Linked DNA regions of Homo sapiens. The protein of the gene in region 1 interacts with the protein of each later gene in a biochemical or structural test. Each region holds a gene or a part of one and is shown in the gene's direction. Other genes may lie near its edges.

The links.
Region 2: the proteins of UBE2D3 (region 1) and NEDD4L form a complex in vitro, tested with the Homo sapiens proteins (7 studies listed by BioGRID).
Region 3: the proteins of UBE2D3 (region 1) and RNF4 form a complex in vitro, tested with the Homo sapiens proteins (6 studies listed by BioGRID).

Annotation. Positions count from the first base shown.
Region 1 is NC_000004.12:102,824,552-102,832,051, reverse strand, and holds the start of UBE2D3 (ubiquitin-conjugating enzyme E2 D3), read left to right. Parts: upstream 1-4,500; 5' UTR 4,501-4,625; intron 4,626-5,193; exon of another isoform or gene 5,194-5,415; 5' UTR 5,416-5,543; coding exon 5,544-5,567; intron 5,568-6,189; exon of another isoform or gene 6,190-6,314; intron 6,315-6,734; exon of another isoform or gene 6,735-6,813; intron 6,814-7,500. UniProt on the Homo sapiens protein: Accepts ubiquitin from the E1 complex and catalyzes its covalent attachment to other proteins. In vitro catalyzes 'Lys-11'-, as well as 'Lys-48'-linked polyubiquitination.
Region 2 is NC_000018.10:58,362,202-58,369,226, forward strand, and holds part of NEDD4L (E3 ubiquitin-protein ligase NEDD4-like), read left to right. Parts: intron 1-2,066; coding exon 2,067-2,132; intron 2,133-3,797; coding exon 3,798-4,027; intron 4,028-5,544; coding exon 5,545-5,666; intron 5,667-7,025. UniProt on the Homo sapiens protein: E3 ubiquitin-protein ligase that mediates the polyubiquitination of lysine and cysteine residues on target proteins and is thereby implicated in the regulation of various signaling pathways including autophagy, innate immunity or DNA repair.
Region 3 is NC_000004.12:2,472,082-2,479,106, forward strand, and holds part of RNF4 (E3 ubiquitin-protein ligase RNF4), read left to right. Parts: intron 1-7,025. UniProt on the Homo sapiens protein: E3 ubiquitin-protein ligase which binds polysumoylated chains covalently attached to proteins and mediates 'Lys-6'-, 'Lys-11'-, 'Lys-48'- and 'Lys-63'-linked polyubiquitination of those substrates and their subsequent targeting to the proteasome for degradation.

The DNA of each region.
Region 1 (7,500 bases):
CTCTATGATGTTGTCTGATGCTTACTGGTCTCCTCAAGAGACTTTCTTATAGATGACATCTGTGTCTTTTATGTATCTTCAGTGTCTAGCACCTAATAGTAATTCGATGTTTTTTAAATAAATAGAAAACTAGGAGTGACTCTATCAACAGATCTCTACTACATTAACATTCTTTGTCCTAAACCTGAAAGACTCCCACTTGCCTATTCAGACCTAAGTATCACTGATTGACAAACCGAATGAAAGTCTCTTTATCGTGCCTCACCCTACACCAAAAGCAGTATTACAAATATATATTTTTTTAACCTGTGTTTGTAAGTAAACCAGCTTTTTGGAAGACAGAATGCACTATTGTGGTCATTTCACATAAACAGAATCAAACAGTATGTGGCCTTTTGTGTCTGGCTCTTTCACTTGACAGAATGTTTTAAGGCTTCAAGATACATTTTGTAACATGTATTAGTACTTTGTTCCTTATAATAATAATAATATTCCATTATACACATATATCACATCTTCTTTATCCATTCATCAGCTGATGGACATTTGAGTTGTTTCTACTAAAAAGTAGAATAGCCCTACTCTGAACATTTGTGTATATATATGTTTTTGTGTGGAAAAATGCTCTATTTTTATCTCAAAGATTTGTGCATGCTTCATTACATGCCAAAAGCCTTATTAAGGCCAAAATGACATCTTAGCATGAAATAAAGTACACTTTCTTAAACCATATTAATTTGACTTAATGAGATTCTGAATTGTTAAGTATAGAAATCAATTTGATTTTTGTGCAAACAATGTAAAATAACATTTGGTTGACCTGGGCTCCAAATTACTTGGTCCAGGCAGAATATGTAAATGAGCATTCTGAATATAAAATCTGGACCGTAGCATTTACAATTTAATTAAACTAATAAAATGGTATACACTGTACTAGAGCCAGTGTCTTTGGCAAGTTATAATATTCTGTAACAAAATTAAAGATACATGAAAACATAGATACAATATTAAGTACATATATATAAAATCTGTTAATTATGTTTATTCATCAATACATTCTAATTAACCCCTTACTCTCAAGTTATTATAATAACGTGGCCTCACTGAAAAATTCATGTAATAAGACCCTGGCACACCACCATTATTCAGATTGGTAGATTAATTGCCCATTTACTAGTAATTTTCTCTGAGACAGGGTCTTGCTCCATCACAGGCTTGAGTATAGTGGCACAATCACAGCTCACTGCAGCCTCAACCTCCCAGGCTGAGGCAATCCTCCCACCTCAGCCTCCCAAGTAGCTGGGACCATAGGCGTGTACCACCATGCTCAGCTAATTGTTTTATTATTTTTGTAGAGACTGGGTCACCCTATGTTATCCAGGCTGGTCTCAAACTCCTGGGCTCAAGTGATCGTTCCACCTTGGCCTCACAAAGTGCTGGGATTACAGGCGTAAGCCACCAGCCCAGCTTTAATTTTCTTGATCCTTTCTATTTTCTCATGTTTTATGTCAATTCATGCAAGATAATCTGATCTACTATATTTACAAAGTTTTTAGGACTTCAAAATAGTATTTATTAAGGAAGGGATTATTTTTAGTTAATTAAATTTTCAACATTTTTGTACCTTTATTAATTTCTAAATGTAAATTTTTCTTTCAGTATTTACAGCCATAATTTTTTTCTTGTTAGCATTATTTCCGACTGCAATATAAAAAACATGATTATTTTCCTTTCTTGTTTCAAATGAGGACATCTCTACCATTGTAATTCAAGTAAGTTAAATGAATGAAAATGTTTTAACTTTATTTGCAACTGTAAAGTGGGCTCTCTGTAACAACAGGTACATGAATAATGTTTTAAAATTTAACTTAATCTTAGCCTGCTTTATCCTAAGGCATCAAAATGCTTCTAGGCTATGTTTCTTTTGATTTTAACCATGGCAAAATATAAGCAGAAATGTAAGTCCACTTATGCAAATACAAACTTGTAAACAGAAAGCCCAATCAACCAATGAATTTACTTCACTGCCTAACAATAATGAGTTTGTGATTACACAATCACTTGCCTTTATAAGCATGGATAATCTAGAACTCCATATATATTAGTTTTGTTTTTTGTTCTTGTTTTTTTTTGAGACAGGGTCTCACTCTGTCGCAGTGATCTTGGCCCACCGCAACCTCCGCCTTCCAGGCTCAAGCGATTCTCCGGCCTCAGCCTCCCAAGCAGCTGGGATTACAGGCGCCCGCCACTACGCCCAGCTAATTTTTTGTATTTTTAGTAGAGATGGGGTTTCACTGTTTTGGCCAGGCTGGTCTCGAACTCCTGATCTCATATGATCCACCCGTCTCAGCCTCCCAAAGTGCTGGGATTACAGGCGTGGCCACTATTACTACTATACATTTGTTTCACACTATGGCCAGTTAATGTCTGACTGGTTACTTTAATAACTGACATTTATACAGCACTGTAGAGTCTCCAGTGTCCTTTCACATATATTATGACACTTTAACCACACAATCACCCTGTGAGAAAGGACAGTCATTATTACTTACTTTAGCGGTGAAGAAACGGGGTTAGAAGATAACTAACCAGGCCAATATCAAGCAAATGGGAAGCAATAACTAATCTGGGTTCCTCCCTCCATCTTCATGCCTAGTCCTGTGCTTTTAGTATATCTGGCTAGCTATGAGAGAGAACACAGATTATTCAGGGAGGAGGGAGGGGCCAGAGGTGTTACTGAGGTGAGCCTCATGAGCAGTTAGGCCATGAGGTAAGCACTTCAGTGCTTTGCTACTCACGGGGTGGTTCAGACGAGAAAAATCTGTATCACCTGGGAGCTAGTTAGAAATGTAGGCTCTCAGGCTCCACCACTGCCCTACCAAATCAAAGTCGCATTTTCAACAAAACCCCAGGTGGTTCCTATGGACACTAGTTTGAGAAGCACTGCTTCACTAGTGACACTACATGGTCACTTGAACAGTATACATTAGACTACTTATATTCATCATTGTTGACGTGTTAAGTTTTTATTAGGTAAAACTTTCTGCAACAGTTTTCAAATTAAGTGTATTTTTAAAACAAGTTTATTTTTCCAAGTAATTGAAGATCTCCACTTCGGTAACTGGGGTCATTAAGGAATGTTAAAAAACCTTAAGCTGGTCAGTGCTTACCCACTTTTAAATTCCTCATAAAAATTAAGGTCTTTCTTTTGCCTGAAGGATACACTAGAGAGCATAACTGCCGTCTCCATACTTTAAACCCTTGACTAAAACAGGCCAATCCTACTGAGGTAAATCCCACCTCCCAACTTGGATATTTCAGGAAGTATTGTATTGTTTTTCTGACTCTAAACTCTACCTAATTAACTAATTAGTCTCAACACTTTCTGGCTCAAGAACTGAAACACAGCAACAGAAGCTAAAGTTTGAGAATTTAAGCTTGTTCCCACATCTACACCTTGGCGGACGGCAGCGACTGATTACGGAGACCAGTGAAAACCCTGCCCCTAACTCTCTCTGTCCTAGCCCCATCCACTCAATTGAGCTTGACTCAGCCTGCTCCCTGCTGTTCTCAGTATTGCTCCCTTAGGGTCAGACGTGCACTAGACTTCAGCACGTGGGAGCGCTGATGAGCGGCCAACCTGGGTCTATTTAAAACTACTATTCCCATCTCGAGGGGCGCCTCCTCCCACAGCATAACCAGCCCAGGAGGGCAGGCGAGTAAATACTGCTCACCTGCTCCACCGGAAACCTCAAAATCCCGGCCCGAGCTAGACTAAAGGTATCTGGTAATTAATCCTTGGCACCTCCCACCACACGCTCCTGATTGGGCGCGTGAGACAAGGCTGTGTCTGCGCGCGCTCTTACCAGTCTGGGGAATTCCATTTCCTCTACCAACCACCGGCATAAGCATTCAGGGGCGTTGCTTTCCTGGCAGTGGCCCGCCCCAGTTCGAGCCGGTGCCTTACTGCGTCTCGCGAGAACTTATGCATTTTGGAGGCGGAACCCCGTCAGGAAAAGCGCACAAAACTGCTCTTAAGTCATTGCAGAGCTACCGCTTCGGTTAGCCAGCCACGAAGTTCTCGCGAGAGTCGTCTCCTCGATACCAAGTGAGGAAACTGGGGGACGCTGTGGGGAGGGGCGTGGGGCTGGATCGCGCAGCGGCTGCTTCCTTTACCTTCCTCCCATGGTCTCCTTCCGGTTCTCGATGCTTCTCTGAGCCTAAGGGTTTCCGCCACTCGTTCACCCTCCCCCCAGCTCATGATCCTCCTCCCTCCCCCGCCCTCCTGGTCCAATCTCCGATCTGTTTAGTAAGAAGGTGCTGTTCCGAGAAGAAGGAAAAGGGCTTGACACGTATTCACTCGGCCCCGGACGTGGGAAGCAAGCCGTCTGGCTTCGGCCTCACATCGGTCTTGTGCTCGGGACGGCGGCGTTGGCGGACTGATCCGCGGCGGTGAAGAGGCAGGAGGAGGGGGAGGGGCGGAGCGTGGCAGCTGGCAGTAGTTCCGTCAGAGCGGACATCTTGTGGCTGTGTCGTGCGCGTGAGCCCCGTAGGGCCGGGGAGGCACCAGCTGCCGCGCGGGGAGGAGGCCGAGGCCGCAGCTTGAGGGAGGCCCCGGCCCCTCTGTACGCGTGGGTGTGGACGGCTAGGGCAGGGAAGGGAGGCCGGCCCAGTGGCCGGCCGGGTAAGAGGGGCAGTGCGGGACCTGGGCGGCTTGAGCGGCCAGCCTATTGGGTGCGGTGGGTTAGGGTGGGAAGGTTGGGGAAGCCGCGGCCTCTCCTGCTGGAGGAGGAGGGGGAATGGGCGCGTCCTCGCGCCTAAGCCGGAGCCTCAGGGACAGCGCGGGCGCGTGGTGGAGGTGGCTGGGCGGGCGCGCGCGGGAGCGCGCTGGAAGGCGGAGTGAGTGTACGGTGGCGTCAGGGGTGACACAGAATAGCTCGCTGCGAGGATAGCAATACACATCAAGTCTCCCTTCCTTTATTTCCTTCCTTTTCCCGGCCGCACCTTTGGACAGAAACCGAAAGCAGCCCGGCGTCCGTCCGGAGTCTTATGCTTCCCCCTCCCCCCTTGCCTTTCTTTGCCCTAGTGACGCCGGTATAGCGCCGACTAGGCCCCGGCTCCTCCTCTGCTGGGCTCCGGACCCTGCCCCGCACCCACCCCTTTCTCCTACGCCTCTTCCTCTCCCACCCGGGTCTCTTCCTTTCTAGAGGCCGGGAAGTTAAACTTGTAGCCACCACCTCCGCTCTTCCCGTCACCCTCGCCCCCACTTCGGGCCGAAAGCACGGTACAGAGGCTGTTGGTGGCTTTGCCACGCCACCCCACCCACCCCGGATCGCGGCTGTCTTAAGGGACCTGGATTCATCAGGGGCTCTTCGGGGCCTGTGCGAGTGCTGATCTGCTCCGTTTTTGCAAAAGGCGCCTGTGTCTGGCAGAGCTGGTGTGAGACGAGACAATCCTGCCCCGCCGCCGGGATAATCAAGAGTTTTGGCCGGACCTTTGAGCATACACCGAGAGAGTGAGGAGCCAGACGACAAGCACACACTATGGCGCTGAAACGGATTAATAAGGTAACCCGCGGGGACAAGGGCATGGGGTGGTAGGAGAAAAGGAAGGCTCGGGCCAAGAGGAAAGCGTGGGGGTGGGAAGGAAGCATAATTCTGAAAATACCTCTTGGATCACTTCTTCCATGGGGGGATGGAGAACGCAGATATACTTCTTGAAGAAATGAAGTTTAAAGCTAGGAAACGGAGAACACTTGTGGCAAGTGAGGTGTTATCCTGAGTGCTTCAGTGGAATCGGTGCAAATTAGGGGTGGAGGAGAGTGACTTAAGGCGCCTTTATTATTTTATTTTTTTGCTGCTTAAGAAGGAGTTTTTTTGGGGGTCCGAATTGCGGAGAGACGCTCCAGCAGATGTCATGGCGCTTCCTATTCTTGGTGCTTGAAAACTTAGTTTAGTTGTGAGATCAAGGTTATCTAGGCCTTCTAGGGGTAAGAAAGAAAACTCGGAGGAGAGAAAAAAAATCTGGCGAGTCCCGAACTTGACTGAGGGTCGGGTAGAAGAAGTCTTGCGTATTGAAGGTCAGTCAGTGAGTCTAGTAGAAACTCTTAGTCGACTCTGGGCAGGTTACACCGAATAAGTGGGTTTGGGAGGAGATGGAATGACACAGTGTTGCCACTTCCTGTATTTTGTAGTTGCAGCTTTTCACCCGAAGCTATTTATCCGAGGGACACCGGGAACTGATGTAAAAGGCATTCTGGAAGCTCCCTTTTCCTTTTGGCTGGAGAGTGGGGGTGGATAAGGGGTGCGATGGCAGTAAGGGAAAGCTAATGTACCTATTTTTGCCTCATTCTATTTAATAACACCCTTGTTTCGTTACTTGAAATGTGGTTTGATAGTATATTATCGATTTAAGTTGAAAAAAAACTAGGATTTTTCGGAGCTCTGGGAGTGAGCGGAACCTCCACCTCCGGTGGTTTAGTCTCATTTTCTTGCTCTAACTTCTATCCCGCATTTTAAGATGGCGGCTGCTTTAACTGGTTCAGGCTCTTTCCGGCATCTCCTTTCGTAATAATGTGAATTAATATGATTTGTTAAATGTTAACTTTTATATCGCGTTGTGCACTGCTCTAAGATCCTCTGCTCAAAACTTACCTAAATTCAAACTCTTAAACTGTATTTCCCTTTTTTGTGACTTGTATTTGTGTGATGTGTTTGGTTGTTGCACAATCGAAGAGGGTGGAGTGTTTACAGCTAACTTGAAAAAAATGTCATGGAATAAATTCAGCCTTACTAGAAAAATTGTGGAGTGTCGGTGAGTGTTAGAAACTTTGGTTTTAATAGATTACTTTTTTAAAAAGAGTTCTGAGAGGAATGGCAAGAATTTGCCTTTACTAAAATAGACCTGATACTACATTTGCCTGTATTTAATTATGACTGGAGTTTATTTGGCAAGATTGGTGTTTCATGAAAGAGGAAGGTTTAAATCTTCACTCTTAGTATGTATTGATATGAAATCGTGAATTTTGTTTTGGGCCTTCATAACATCGTCATTTTGGGTTATGCGAAATACAAATTTAAATCTTTGTGAAATGAAAGAAAAGAGGAAGAAACGCTTTTTAGGAGTTAAGGATTAAAGTAAAAATTATTTTGAAATAATTACCTCTTTTTGTGACCACTTTAAAGGCCAGGAACATATTGGAGAAGCCTAGTTGTATGTTACAGTGTGGTTTACACAAAGAGCATAACATTCAGTACAAATAAAAATCTTTTCTGTTGGAATTAGTTCAGGCCACTAAAATGTGGAATAGTACCAGATCCATAGCTTTTTGTGCATGTGGAACAGAACACGTTAAAGGAAGGCCTCTGATTTTTTTTCTCTTACAGGTCATACCCAGCTGCTGTGACACCACTTAAATGATTTAAAAGCTTTAGAGAGACAATATAACAGTGGTTAAGAGTGTAAACATTGGAGCAGAAATGCTCCAGTTAGAATTCTAGC
Region 2 (7,025 bases), on another chromosome or scaffold:
TCTGCTCCTTGGGGAATTTGTCATTTAAGACAGTCGAACTTGCATACACAGTGATGACTGTTTAAGCTTTTTTTCCAACATTTTCAGGAGTAGGGGGAACTGTGATGTAACAGTGATGTTTGGAGAACCCTCACGAATACAGGAACAAACAAAAAATAGTTGCTGGGAATCACAGACTTTCAGAAATAGAAGAGCTGAGTCACGTTTGTTCATCCAGTCAAATTCTTCCACTTAACAGTGAAGAAACTCCTTAGTAGAGAGGATGTGATGCAGAGCCAGCTGATGAGAGTCTACCCGAGAGTGCAGGCCTTCTAACGCTGGCAGGAGAGAGTGGAAGGAAGTCACTTTTTTAGTTCCTATGGGGTCATTTTTTTCCTCATGGCACTACCACGGTTTATTCATTGATTTCCTATTGCCTGTTGCTCTCAACAGCTTGTGAGCTCCAGGAGGGAACTGGGAAAGCTACCTTTGGTTTATGTACTGTTATTTTTCTGGCACCTAAAATGCCTTGCACAGAGTAGGTGCTCAAGAAGTATCGGTTGAATGGACGAGAATGAACACCAGAAAGTGAGAAATAAACTAGAGAGGAAATCTTAGTTTGTGACGGGATGTACTGTTGGTAGAGCAGAAAACATGATCTCTTTATTGGCTTATGTCAGAACATTGTATTCTTTTTCTTATTTTGGTGGTTGTCCAGGTATTAACAAATTTATACCTTGCCTAGACTCAGAATTGCTATGTGGTTTCATCAGACTAAACACTGCCTAAAATAAATAGGATGTGAGGTCAAATCTGTTGTTCAGTGGAAAATCAAAGAAGACTGGCTTAAAAACTAAGAAAAGACCATAGGCAGTGTAAATTGTCTATAGATTGCTCCTAAGCTATATAAAGATGATGTATTTTTTGCTCTGGAATTACAGAGCAAAACACTGACGTGCTCATTTTCTGGAAGAGTGGTTGTTTGTTTTGTTTCGGGTTTTTTATATAAACATGTCTTAAAACTATAAAAGAGGGAAGTTCATGTTCTTCATTTCTTCTGTTTCTGGTCAAGATAAGTATGGTGAAAGTGTAAGGTTTGGAGTCTGGAGATACTAGACTAAGGATCAGTATATTTTATTAACTTAGGCCGAAATGATAACAGCAGAAGTATTCTCTGCTGAAATTCATACTAGTGGCTAAAAAGCAATGAGTTGTTTTCGAGGCTGTCATAGTTAATGTCTGTGTATATGCAAAACCCAATCCTTTTTGCTCATAAAAATATCGTAAGCTTTTTCAGTAGCCAAAACTCACGGCCCTGACTCTAAGATATTGTAAGCTACTTTACAAGGTAGCAAATAAAGATTATTTAAATGACTACATTAACATGTTACTCCTTTGCCTGAAGAGATATCACAACTTTTGAATGACTATAGTTAACTCAATTCCTGAGCCCTCAACTGGGGTACTATCACTCTATTTCATAGATAAAGCATTTGAGATTTAAAGAAATCCTTGCCCAAGACCACTAAATATTAAGGGACAAACCTTCTGACTTCTAAATTGAGGATTTTTTGAGAATGCCATCTGCCTGATTTTATATTCCTTGATAGGAGTGTCAGTTCACTTCCCTTTCTGCTCGTTGTATTTCCCCACAAAAATTCGTTAAACCGTAATTAGACTTTTCAAAATGCCAACGTAGGTCATTCTGGGTTGTATGTTAGAAGTATTTAGCCAATAACTCTTACCTAAACCACAGCAAAAAAGAAAAACAGAAACACCCTGACTCATATTCTGACAAAAGTCACTTGGAAAGCATGTTTAGTTTGTGTAGCGTACCCCAAATGGTTTCTCAAATAGCAGTATAGCTGTTTTCAGGGGTGAAAGCTGCATTCAAAGCTGATTAGCCCTCATCAGTTCTAGGACTTTCCCCTGTGCTGTGTAGACATTATCTAATTTTTCCATGGATAATCTGAGAAGTGAGAATTTACGGTTTATGACTCATGAAATTCTCTTGAATGTTGCCTCAGTATACATAAAATTTCAGGTGTATTGTTTGCATTATCTATATTTATAAATTTATCTTCCAGGCTGTCCCTTACTCCAGAGAATTTAAGCAGAAATATGACTACTTCAGGAAGAAATTAAAGAAACCTGTGAGTAATCATGCCTTCCAAAAATGCTTTGTGTTAGTCATTTGTAAGTTACCACAGTCACTTCAGTGAGAACAACTTGGTTGTTACTTTTATATGAATGCTAAAAATATTACCTTCCTTTTCTCTCTGCACTTTGATCCTCCTGGTTCTAAAATCTGAATTTTCTTTTTAACAGAAATGGTAAGTGAAAATTAACTCAGTGTTACATATCAAATCACCTGAAGGGTAATTTCCTATGTAATACATAAAAAGACAGGAATGATTTTTATGGGATATAAAATAATTCAGAACCCTAGTCACAAAATCTGTGGAAGCCTATTCAATTATGCGCAGTTATCATATTTAATTAACCTGGATCCCGGTAAGAAAAATGTTCAAGTCCTTCCTTGTAAATGCAAAAGCTTAGTTTCAACTACAGTATTTATAATATAGTGTTATATTTAATTATAATAATTGGCAGTATTACGTCCAAATGTAATTTTCTACTTATAATTATCCCTGGCAGTTTAAAACCTAGAAACTCTAAAAATTTTTATGGGCAACATTTTAAATTATAACATTGCATTTTCTAATGACACACCATCCCCAAATTGTTCAACATTGCATCCTCTGTTTTACTTTCCGATTCCTCCTTAGCAGTTTTCTCTTCAATTTTCTCCATCACTATGGTTACACCTCTAGGGAGGGGAGAGAAGCGGCTGCAGCTCAGACCCCCTCTGGTGGCCTGGGCTCCATTGCCATCTCTCCCTGCCTCCTCCCCTCAGCTGGTTCCTCCTGCCCGGGAACATCTCTGGATGGGGCACAATGTCTGCTCTCATTTAGGGGTTTTGGTCTCTGTTCCAAAGTCCTGATTCAAGAGCTTGCGGGTAACTGCTATTGAAATGATTCTTTGCCTTCAAAACTCAAATGATCACTGAAAATTCCACAGTTTTCTTTGTGAGTCATGTCCCCTGGTAATGATGATGACTGTGGTCATCACCCAGTCTCACTCTATGGCTCTCACATAGCAGTGTCTGCTACCCGGAAACCATCTCTGCACATTCATTCTTACAGCCAGACCAAGCCTGGACCGCCTCTTTGCAGGAGGCAGTTGCCACAACCTTGGTCAAGTGTTTTGTTATTTTCATGTCAGCGAACCATGCTTTGGGCTGCTTTCCCCACACTTGGCATAATCAGGATCCCACTCCCCATGGCAACAAAATGGACTTGAGGCAGCGTGGATTATATCTACCACCTGGCGGCCCTGCCACAGTTGAGCATGGATAGGCCCAACCTGGCCAGGTGGGGATTATTACAGGTTTTGACTACCTGGGCTAAAGTCTCTTGAGTGAAGCAACAGATACAGTCGACTGCCTTTCGGTTGCCCTATGCTGGAGAAGTGCCCACAGTTGTTTATTAAAGGGGGCAAGGAGGATGTTCTCCTTCGCAGCAGAGTTCTAACTTTCCTGAGCATCGCTAGTGGATGCCGTGTGTCCCATCGTGACACAGCAAGGCTTTCTGTCTGCAAGGGAAAACCCCTAAAGGAGAGAATCTCAGTTGGAACCATTTGTCACTGCCTGTTTCTTTGAGGACTGCCAACTTTTCTACCATTTGCTGTTGTTTTTATTAGAAAACAAAGTGTGTATTTACTGTATGATTATGTGTTTTCTTTTGTCTTTTGTGTAGGCTGATATCCCCAATAGGTTTGAAATGAAACTTCACAGAAATAACATATTTGAAGAGTCCTATCGGAGAATTATGTCCGTGAAAAGACCAGATGTCCTAAAAGCTAGACTGTGGATTGAGTTTGAATCAGAGAAAGGTCTTGACTATGGGGGTGTGGCCAGAGAATGGTTCTTCTTACTGTCCAAAGAGATGTTCAACCCCTACTACGGCCTCTTTGAGTACTCTGCCACGTAAGTATATGGCCACACCCAGTGTGTGTCCCCCACTGAGACAGTTGTATGAATTTAAACAGAATGAAAGGATAAGCAGCTCATGAGTTCGAGATGCATTAACTCTGCTGAGTTTGTTCTCTCCTCACCCCACAGCCCCTTGCAAGTCTAGAACAGGTTCTGACTCTACGTGGTGAAATAGTGTACTCTGCGAACATCTAACATTGATTTTTTTTCTTGTCTATTGGGTTCATGGAGTTGAAATTGAAAACGTGGATAATTATGATAAGGAACAGGAGGCGATTTTCATTTGCAGTGTTCAAGAGGAGGACTTGTCAGTGTTAGAATTCAAAAACAAAGGAGGTGTTTTTTGAACAAGAGTCGTTTCTGAGGTCTCCTGTGTAAAGGCAAATTGTAAGGACTTTGAGGACCTAGGACCATGCCCTGCTCCTGTAAGGAAAGAACCAGGTTTCCCCTTGCATTAGGATTTCATCATTGCCAGGCTTGGAAACTGAGGCAGACTAAATTGCTTTCTGAGCAATTAAACATCAGCTACTTCCAGGCCAGCCATTCCTCCTTCAGACTCTGAATCCTCCAAGGGTTGGGCAGTACCCAAGCCCCCAGTAGAATAGTCATTGACCTTGCTGAAGGGCATTTGTCATCACTCCAGCCCTGGGCTCTAAGGGGACGTGGGTTCCCCCACATCTCCCACCTGGTACCAGTCTCCTGGGGGCTCATTTGGAAGGCCGCCTCAGTACATTCTTCCTGGTTGCTCTAGCCAAGAATTGCCCAATTGATTTGTTGTTACTGAGTCCCATGAGAAAGCCCACTATGTACAATGTATCCAACTATTGAAGGTGGAGGGCAGGGTGGAGAGAGACAAGATCTTTACCTCTTCTCCACATTTTCAAAGATACCCCCACCCCGGAGGAATCAGTCTGTGATCCCAGTTTGAAAACTACTGATCCACATGATTGTGAACCAAGCAAGATCATTTGGACAAATCTAAAAATTTGCAGGTTTGCATCATTGAGAGAGCCATATCCTGTTCCTAATCCCCTCGAGGCCTTTTCAGAGCAGAGTAGTGGTCAGAAGACAGACCAAGGGTTGGGCCCATAGCAAACATCTTATGGCCAAGCCAAAAGCCTCTGGAAGGAATTAAACTTCCTTCATCACAGAGACGACCTAAAGTACTCACATCTTTGGGAATCCCTGCACAGCCCCTTTATTATGTGGCGTTTCTCATCTCCCCAAGATATTTGGCTGAACCATATGAAATAGACACTTCGTAGGTCAAAAACAGTCAAACATCAGCGTCTCTTATGGTTTAATTGACTTTAGAGGGCACATGCGTCAGCCTCCATGGTGGGTCACGGTTGAGCATGTGGTAAGTCAGGTCCTCTAGCCCACACATTTTCCCACTAGGTACAGAATGCTCGCAGGGACACTGTAAAAGTTGAGTGACAGGTGGCAAACAAATATGCAAAATCTTGCATTTGAAAGTGTGATTGGGCTTTTCTTCTCTTTCTCCTCAAAAGGGACAACTACACCCTTCAGATCAACCCTAATTCAGGCCTCTGTAATGAGGATCATTTGTCCTACTTCACTTTTATTGGAAGAGTTGCTGGTCTGGCCGTATTTCATGGGAAGCTCTTAGATGGTAAGTCTTGAAGTAATAAAAATAGGTCAGTGCTGCTTGCGGTTTGCTAGTAGGTGTCTTATCTTTCGCATCATGGGTTTTTAAGCAAAAGCTTCACTGGTTTACTCATAAAGTATTTTTATGTTTTGCCCATAATGGATGTCCTTTTCTCTGGTAGCTTATTTTGGGCACTGAAGACATAGTGTCTACACACAGTTAAAAACAAAAGTTTTTTTTTAACTTCAGTGTAAAACACAGAACATTATGTATTTATACATTTGTATGTTTTCTGGAATAACTTTAGTGAAAGCAAGATTTGATAACAGATGGAAAAACTAATTGAAAAGTTAATTAAAATGATCTCATCTATCTAATATCCTGTGATTATTGCGTTTGTCCCCAAATTATTTTTTAATTTGAAGGGACTAAATAATTTCAAAATAATGTTACTGCTTAGCTAAGACATTAACCCTGAAACAAATAACACAAAATAATTTCATTCTTATTTAAAGCATATAGATCATGGAAGAATTTCAAGGTACCTTGAAAGTTAGAAGTCAAACCCTCTACCTGGCGGTATCTATAGGCTTAGAGACTTCTAAAAGATTTGGCCAATTCAAAATAGTGTCCTTAAGAAAACACTACAGAAATCATCAGTGAGAAAAAAGCATCAGAAATACTTTTTAAGAGCCTGGAGGTAGAGTGGTTGAGGATGGGAAGAGGGAGAGTAGGATTTGAGATTGACATTGCAGTAACTTATAAGAAAGATATTTCCAAGGGAACTGTGTTCATTGCATTTATAGAGCCTTAGCTATTCTAATAAATAATTTGTATACCCTCTGTACTTTTCCCATGAATATGTTTTTACTGTTAATTGGTAGCTGATATTGATGCTCTGATTTTGTTGCTTTATTTGGTAGCAGGGCGACAGTAAACACTTTTTTTCCTCTAGAAGGAAACTAAACCACACACTCTTTCCATGTATGTATAGTGTGAATATATTTTAATTTCCAGCTTTGGAGTCATGCCATAGATTGTTTCAGCCTGCTCCAATTCACTCCAACTTTCTCAGAAGGTCAGTTTAGTCACCGTATGCAAGTGAGAAGATGCTGTTAGTTGCTACAGTGTCTTTAATACCCTCTCTAACAGGGGGTAATAGAGAAGCATAAGATATGATCCTGACCTTAGTCAGCTTATATTTTAGCGGGGGGAAAAGAGATGAGAACAAAACCAGAAGAATCACAGTGATAGTGTCTGAGCAGAAGGGAGTGCATTGAGTCCTCAGAGGAGAAAGTGACTTGGCTGGAGGCTCAGGGAATCTTTCCCAGGATGAGCTGCACCTCGGAGGTGGGGTAGCATTTGAGCGTTCAAAGGCTGGGG
Region 3 (7,025 bases), about 100 Mb from region 1:
TGGCTTCAAAGGACAGTCTGATTCTCTTGTTAGGGGCTAGTGTGGCCAGTGACTTAAGTTGTAACTAGTGCTCATTTACCATTCTGAAAATCCTAGGGCCCTTAAGAAGTATGCAAAAATCTACTGTGTGCTGATCATTGAAACAGGAAAGCCTGTATAGTAGCATATCTGTTTACAGTATGTTTTACTGAATATTTTAAGCCCACTATTGAGATCTACAGCTCAGAAAAAAAGATTTCTTTCAAAATATTACTGCTCATTGAGAATGTGCTTAGTCACCAAAGAGGTCTCATGGAGATGAGTAAGATTAATGTTAACATCTGTTCTGCAGCCCATGGATCAAGGAGTAATTTCAACTCTCAAATCTTACTTAAGAAATGCATCTTGAGGCTGAGCACAGTGGCTCATGCCTGTACTCGCAGCACTTCGGGAGGCCAAAGCTGGTGGATCGCTTGAGCTCAGGAGTTAGAGACCAGCCGGGGCAGCATAGTGAGACCACCCCCTCCACTGCCAGTCTCTTAAAAAAAAAAAAAAAAAAGGGCGGCAGGGGGAAAGAAAGAAATGCATTTTGTAAGGCTACAGCTACATAGATTGTGATTCTTCTGATGGGTATCAACAATGTAAATTAAAAACCTCCTGAAAGGATATACTATTCTAGATACCATTAAGAATATTTGTCTCCAGGCACGGTGGCTCACCCGTGTAATCCCAGCACTTTGGGAGGCGAAGTGGGCGGATCACAAGGTCAGGAGATCGAGACCATCCTGGCTAACATGGTGAAACCCCATCTCTACTAAAAATACAAAAAATTAGCCGGTCTTGGCAGCGGGCACCTGTAGTCCCAGCTACTCGGGAGGCTGAGGCAGGAGAATGGTGTGAACCCGGGAAGAGGAGCTTGCAGTGAGCCAAGATAGCACCACTGCACTCCAGCCTGGGCAACAGAGCGAGACTCCATCTCAAAAAAGAAAAAAAAAAAGAATATTTGTGATTCATGGGAGGAGGTCAAAATATCAACATCAGCAGTTCACGGTGGCTCACGCCTGTAATCCCAGCACTTTGGGAGGCTGGGGCAGGCAGATCACCTGAGGTCAGGAGTTTGAGACCAGCCTGCCCAACATGGTGAAACCCCGTCTCTACCAACAAAATACAAAAATTAGCCAGGCATGGTGGCACGCTCCTGTAGTCCCAGCTACTTGAGGAGCTGAGGTAGGTTAATCGCTTGGGCCCAGGAGGTGGAGGCTGCAGTGAGCCGAGATTGTGCCTCTGCACTACAGCCTGGGCAACAGTGAGATTCCGTCTTAAAAAAAAAAATCAATTAACACAACAAGAACTTGGAAAAAGTTGATTCTGACCCTCATGGGTGACTTTGAGGGGTTCTAGACTTCAATGGAAAAAGTAACTGTAGATGTGGTGGAAATAGCAAGAGAACTAGAATTAGAAGTAGAGCCTGGCCGGGCCTGGTGGCTCACGCCTGTAATCTCAGCACTTTGGGAGGCCTAGGCGGGTGGATTACGAGGTCAGGAGTTCACAACCAGCCTGGCCAGATGGTGAAACCCCGTCTCTACTAAAAATACAAAAAATTAGCAGGGCGTGGTGGCGCACGCCTGTAATCCTAGCTACTCTGGAAGCTGAGGCAGAGAATTGCTTAAACCTGGAGGGGCAGAGGTTGTGGTGAGCCGAGATCACACTACTGCACTCCAGCCTGGGCGACAGAGCGAGACTCTGTCTAGAAAAAAAAAAGTAGAGCCTGAAGGCTGGGCCTGATGGATCACCTGAGGTCAGGAGTTGGAGACCAGCCTGGCCAACATGATAAAACCTTGTCTCTACTAAAAATACAAAAATTAGCTGAGCGTGGTAGTGGGATTGTTACTGCATAGTAATCCCGGCCACTCCAGAGGCTGAGGCAGGAGAATTGCTTGAACCCAGGAAGCAGAGGTTGCAGTGAGCCAAGATCGGGCCACTGCACTCAAGCGTGGACAATAGAGTGAGACTTTGTCTCAAAAAAATAAAAGGGCCAGGCAAGGTGGCTCACACCTGTAATCCCAGCACTTTGGGAGGCCAAGGCAGGCGGATCACGAGGTCAGGAGATTGAAACCATCCTGGCTAACACGGTGAAACACCGTCTCTACTAAAAACACACAAAAAAATTAGCCAGGTGTGGTGGCACGCACCTGTAATCGCAGCTACTCAGGAGGCTGAGGCAGGAGAATCGCTTGAACCCAGGAGGCAGAGGTTGCAGCGAGCCGAAATCACGCCATTGCACTCCATCCAGCCTGGTTGACAGAACGAGACTCTGTCTCAAAAAAAAAAAAAAAAAAAGTAGAACCTGAAGATGTGACTGAATTGCTGCAATTTTTAAATAAAACTTGAACACATGGAGAGTTGCTTCCTGTGGACAGGCAAAGAAAGTGGTTTCTTGAGGTGGAATTTACTGCTGAAGGTGCAGTGAACATTGTTGAGATTATAACAAAGGATTTAGAATATTTTATAAACTTAGTTAATAAAACAGTGGCAGGGTTTGAAAGGATTGACTCCAATTTTGAAAGAAGTTCCACTGTGGGTAAAATGCTGTCACACAGCATTGCACGCTACAGAGAAATCTTTCATGAAAGGAAGAGACAACTGATGCAGCAAACTTCATTTTAAGAAATTGTCACAGTTGGCCCAGTGCGGTGGCTCACGCCTGTAATCCCAGCACTTTAGGAGGCCGAGGCAGGCGGATCACCTCAGGTTGGGACTTCCAGACCAGCCTGGCCAACATGGAGAAACCCCGTCTCGACTAAAAATACAAAAAAATTAGCTGGGCGTGGTGGGGCATGCCTGTAATCCCAGCTACTCGGGAAGCTGAGACAGGAGAATTGCTTGAACCAGGGAGGCAGAGGTTGCGGTGAGCCAAGATTGCGCCGTTGTACTCCAGCCTGGGCAACAAGAGTGAAACTCCATCTCAAAAAAAGAAAAAGAAAAACTGTCACAGCTGCCCCAACCTTCATTAGCCACTGCCCTGATCCATGAGCAGCCATCATCAGGGCAAGACCCTTCACCAGCAAAAATATTACAACTTTGTGAAGACTCAAATGATCATTAGCATTTTTTATTTATTTTTTAAGAGAATATCTCCCTGTTGCCCCAGTTGGAGTGCATTGGTGCGATCGTAACTCACTGCAGCTTCCAACTTCTGGGTTCAAGAGATCCTCTCACCTCAGCCTCCCAAGTAGCTGGGGCTACAGGCGCACGCCACCGCACCTGGCTTTTTGTTTGTTTGTTTGTTTGTTTTTGAGATGTAGTCTCACTCTGCCGCCCAGGCTGGTGTGCAGTGGCGCGATCTCGGCTCATTGCAAGCTCCGCCTCCCAGGTTCACGCCATTCTCCTGCCTCAGCCTCCCGGGTAGCTGGGACTACAGGCACGTGCCACCATGCCCAGCTAATTTTTTGTATTTTTAGTAGAGATAGGGTTTCACCGTGTTTGCCAGGATGGTCTCGATCTCCTGACCTCAAGATCCACCCGCCTCAGCCTCCCAAAGTGCTGGGATTACAGGCGTGAGCCACCTCGCCTGGCCCACACCTGGCTAATTTTTAACAAAGTTTTGTAGACTGGGTCTTGCCCTTTTGTCCAGGCTGGTCTCAGACTCCAGACTCATGATTTAATATCTATGGTTGAGTGATTCCCTACTTCTTACTCTCTTACAGAACCACTCTATAAGATAGTTGTTGTAGTTAGCCCCATTTTACTCTTCCTGAGGCACTGGGAGATCAGGGTCACTTGCCCAAGGTCACACAATTAGTAAGCAGAGCTCGAAACTTCACCCCACCCCTGACTCCTACCTTTGTTCCTTTTGTTAGGCTTTGTTATGTCATCTGCTTTTTTTGTGTGGTGGGAAAGCACATGGCCAATGTTTCTAGAAACTTCAAATAGTAAAAACAAAATAGTATCTTTATTTTTGCTTTCACCGCAGAGGAGTCTGATAATTATCCTCAAGAAAATTTATTGATTCTCAGTAACTGTATTGTATTCCTCAAAGTTATTTTTCCTAAGTTTTCTCCTCTCACCAGCTAAGGGAAGTTGTCCTAGGGCCTAGGCATTTCCCTGTCTGCCACACCTCACCTCTTACTTTAGCCAAACTACTGCTAAATTCTGCTCCTAAATATGGCAGCATTCTGTGTTACCTGCACTAAAATTTGCTTCCCTTGTAAGTACCTTCTTGATGTCTTCCAGTGTTGGTTCTCGCCTCCTACTCTTGCAAGTTGAAAAGTTGAAAATGCCTCAGGTAGAAATGTTCTCTCCTATTCTCCCATCATGATCATCTGTGTTTTTTTGTTTTTTGTTTGTTTTTTGAGACGGAGTCTTGCTCTGTCACCCAGGCTGGAGTACAGTGGCACGATCTCAGCACTGCAACCTCTGCCTCCCGGGTTCAAGCAATTCTCCTGCCTCAGCCTCCTAAGGACCTGGGATTACAGGCATGTGCCACCACGGCTGGCTAATTTTTTGTATCTTTACTAGAGATGGGGTTTCACCATGTTGGCCAGCCTGTCTCGAACTCCTGACCTTGTGATCCACCCACCTCGGCCTCCCAAAGTGCTGGGATTACAGGTGTGAGCCACCACGTCCAGCCCTTTTCTTTCTTTCTTTTTTTTTTTTTTTTAATTTAAGAGAAGGTTGTCTTCCTATGTTTCCCGGGCAGGAGTGCAGTGGCTATTTGCAGGTGCAATTATATAGCACAGTACAGCCTAAAACTTTTTTTTTTTTTTAAAGACAGAATCTTGTTCTTTCTCAACTCACTTCAACCTCCACCTCCTGGGTTCAAGTGATTCACCTGTCTCAGCCTCCCGAGTAGCTGGGATTACAGGTGGGCAGCACCACGTCTAGCTCATTTTTGTATTTTTATTAGAGACAGGGTTTCACTATGTTGGCCAGCCTGGTCTTGAACTCCTGACTTCAGGTGATCTGCCCGCCTCAGCCTCCCAAAGTGCTGGGATTATAAGCATGAGCCACCATGCCCTGCCTACAGCCTCAAACTTTAAGCTAAATTAATCCTCTTGCCTCAGTGTCCCAAGTAAATGGGAATACAGGTGCTGATATGGTTTGGCTGTGTCCCCACCCAAATCTCACATTGAATTCCTACATGTTGTGGGAGGGACCCAGTGGGAGGCAATTGAATCTTGGGGGCAGGTCTTTCCCATGCTGTTCTCATGATGGTGAATAAGTCTCAAGAGATCTGATGCTTTAGGTCGGGGGCGGTGGCTGATGCCTGTAATCCCAGCACTTTGGGAGGCCAAGGCGGGCGGATCACGAGGTTAGGAGTTCAAGATGAGTGTGGCCAACATAGTGAAACCCTGTCTCTACTAAAAATACAAAAATTAGCTGGACATGGTGGTACATGCCTGTAGTTCCAGCTACTTGGGAGGCTGAGGCAGGAGAATTGCTTGAACCCAGGAGGTGGAGATTACAGTGAGCCGAGATCATGCCACTGCACTCCAGCTTGGACAACAGAGTAGACTTAATCTAAAAAAACAAAAGAGATCTGATGCTTTTATAAGGGGGAGTTTCCCTACACAAGCTCTCTTTGCCTGCTGCCATCTATGTAAGGCATGACTTACTTGCTTCTCCTTGCCTTCCGCCATGATTGTGAAGCCTCCCCGGCCATTTGGAACTGGCTTTTGTAAACTTCTTGCTTTTGTAAATTGCCCAGTCTCAGGTATGTCTTTATTAGCATCGTGAAAACATACTGGTACAGTAAGTTGGTACCAGTAGAGTGCGATGCTGCTGAAAAGATACCTGAAAATTTGGAAACAGCTTTGCAACTGGGTAGCAGGCAGGGATTGGAACAGTTTGGAGGGCTCAGAAGAAGACAGGAAAATGTGGGAAAGTTTGGAACTCGCTAGAGACTTGTTGAATGGCTTTGACCAAAATGTTGATAAGGATATGGACAATGAAATCCAGGCTGAGATGGTCTCAGATGGAGATGAGGAACTTGTTGGGAACTGGAGCAAGGGTCACTCCTGTTATGTTTCAGCAAAGAGACTAGCCGCATTTTGCCCCTGCCCTAGAGATTTGTGGAACTTTGAACTTGAGAAAGATGATTTAGGGTATCTGGCAGAATAAATTTCTAAGCAGCAAAGCATTCAAGAGATGACTTGGGTACAGTTAAAGGCATTCAGTTTTATAAGGGAAGCAGAGCATAAAAGTTTGGAAAATTTGCAGCCTCCTGTCAATGTGCTAGAAAATAAAATTCCATTTTCTGAGGGGAAATTAAAGCCAGCTGCAGAGATTTGCATAAGTAACAGGGAGCCAAACGTTAATCCCCAAGACAGTGGGGGGAAATGTCTCCAGGGCATGTCACAGGCCTTCATGGCAGCCCCTCCCATCATAGGCCCAGATGCCCAGGAGGAAAATATGGTTTCCTGGGCTGGGCCCAGGGTTCCCCTGCTGTGTGCAGCCTAGGGGCCTGGTGCCCTGCGTTCCAGCCGTCTCAGCTGTGGCCAAAAGGGGCCAACATAGAGTAGAACTCAGGCTGTGGTTTCAGAAGGTGCAGGCCCCAAACCTTGGCAGCTTCCACATGGTGTTGAGCCTGCGAGTGCGCAGAAGTCAACAATGAGGGTTTGGGAACCTCCACTAGATTTCAGAGGATGCATGGAAACACCTGGATGCCCAGGCAGAAGTTTGCTGCAGGGGCGGGACACTCATGGAGAACCTCCGCTAGGGCAGTGTGGAAGGGAAATGTGGGGTTGGAGCCCCCAAGCAGAGTCCCTACTGGAGCACCACCTGGTAGAGCTGTGGGAAGAGGGCCACTGTCCTCCACACCCCAGAATGATAGATCCACTGACAGCTTGCCCTGTACACCTGGAAAAGCTGCAGACACTCAACACCACCCAGTGAAAACAGCCGGGAGGGAGGCTGTACTCTGCAAAGCCACAGGGGTGGAGCTGCCTAAGGCCATGGGAACTCACCTCTTGGATCAGCGTGACCTGGATGTGAGACATGGAGTCAAAGGAGATCATTTTGGAGCTTTGAGATTTGGACTGCTCTGC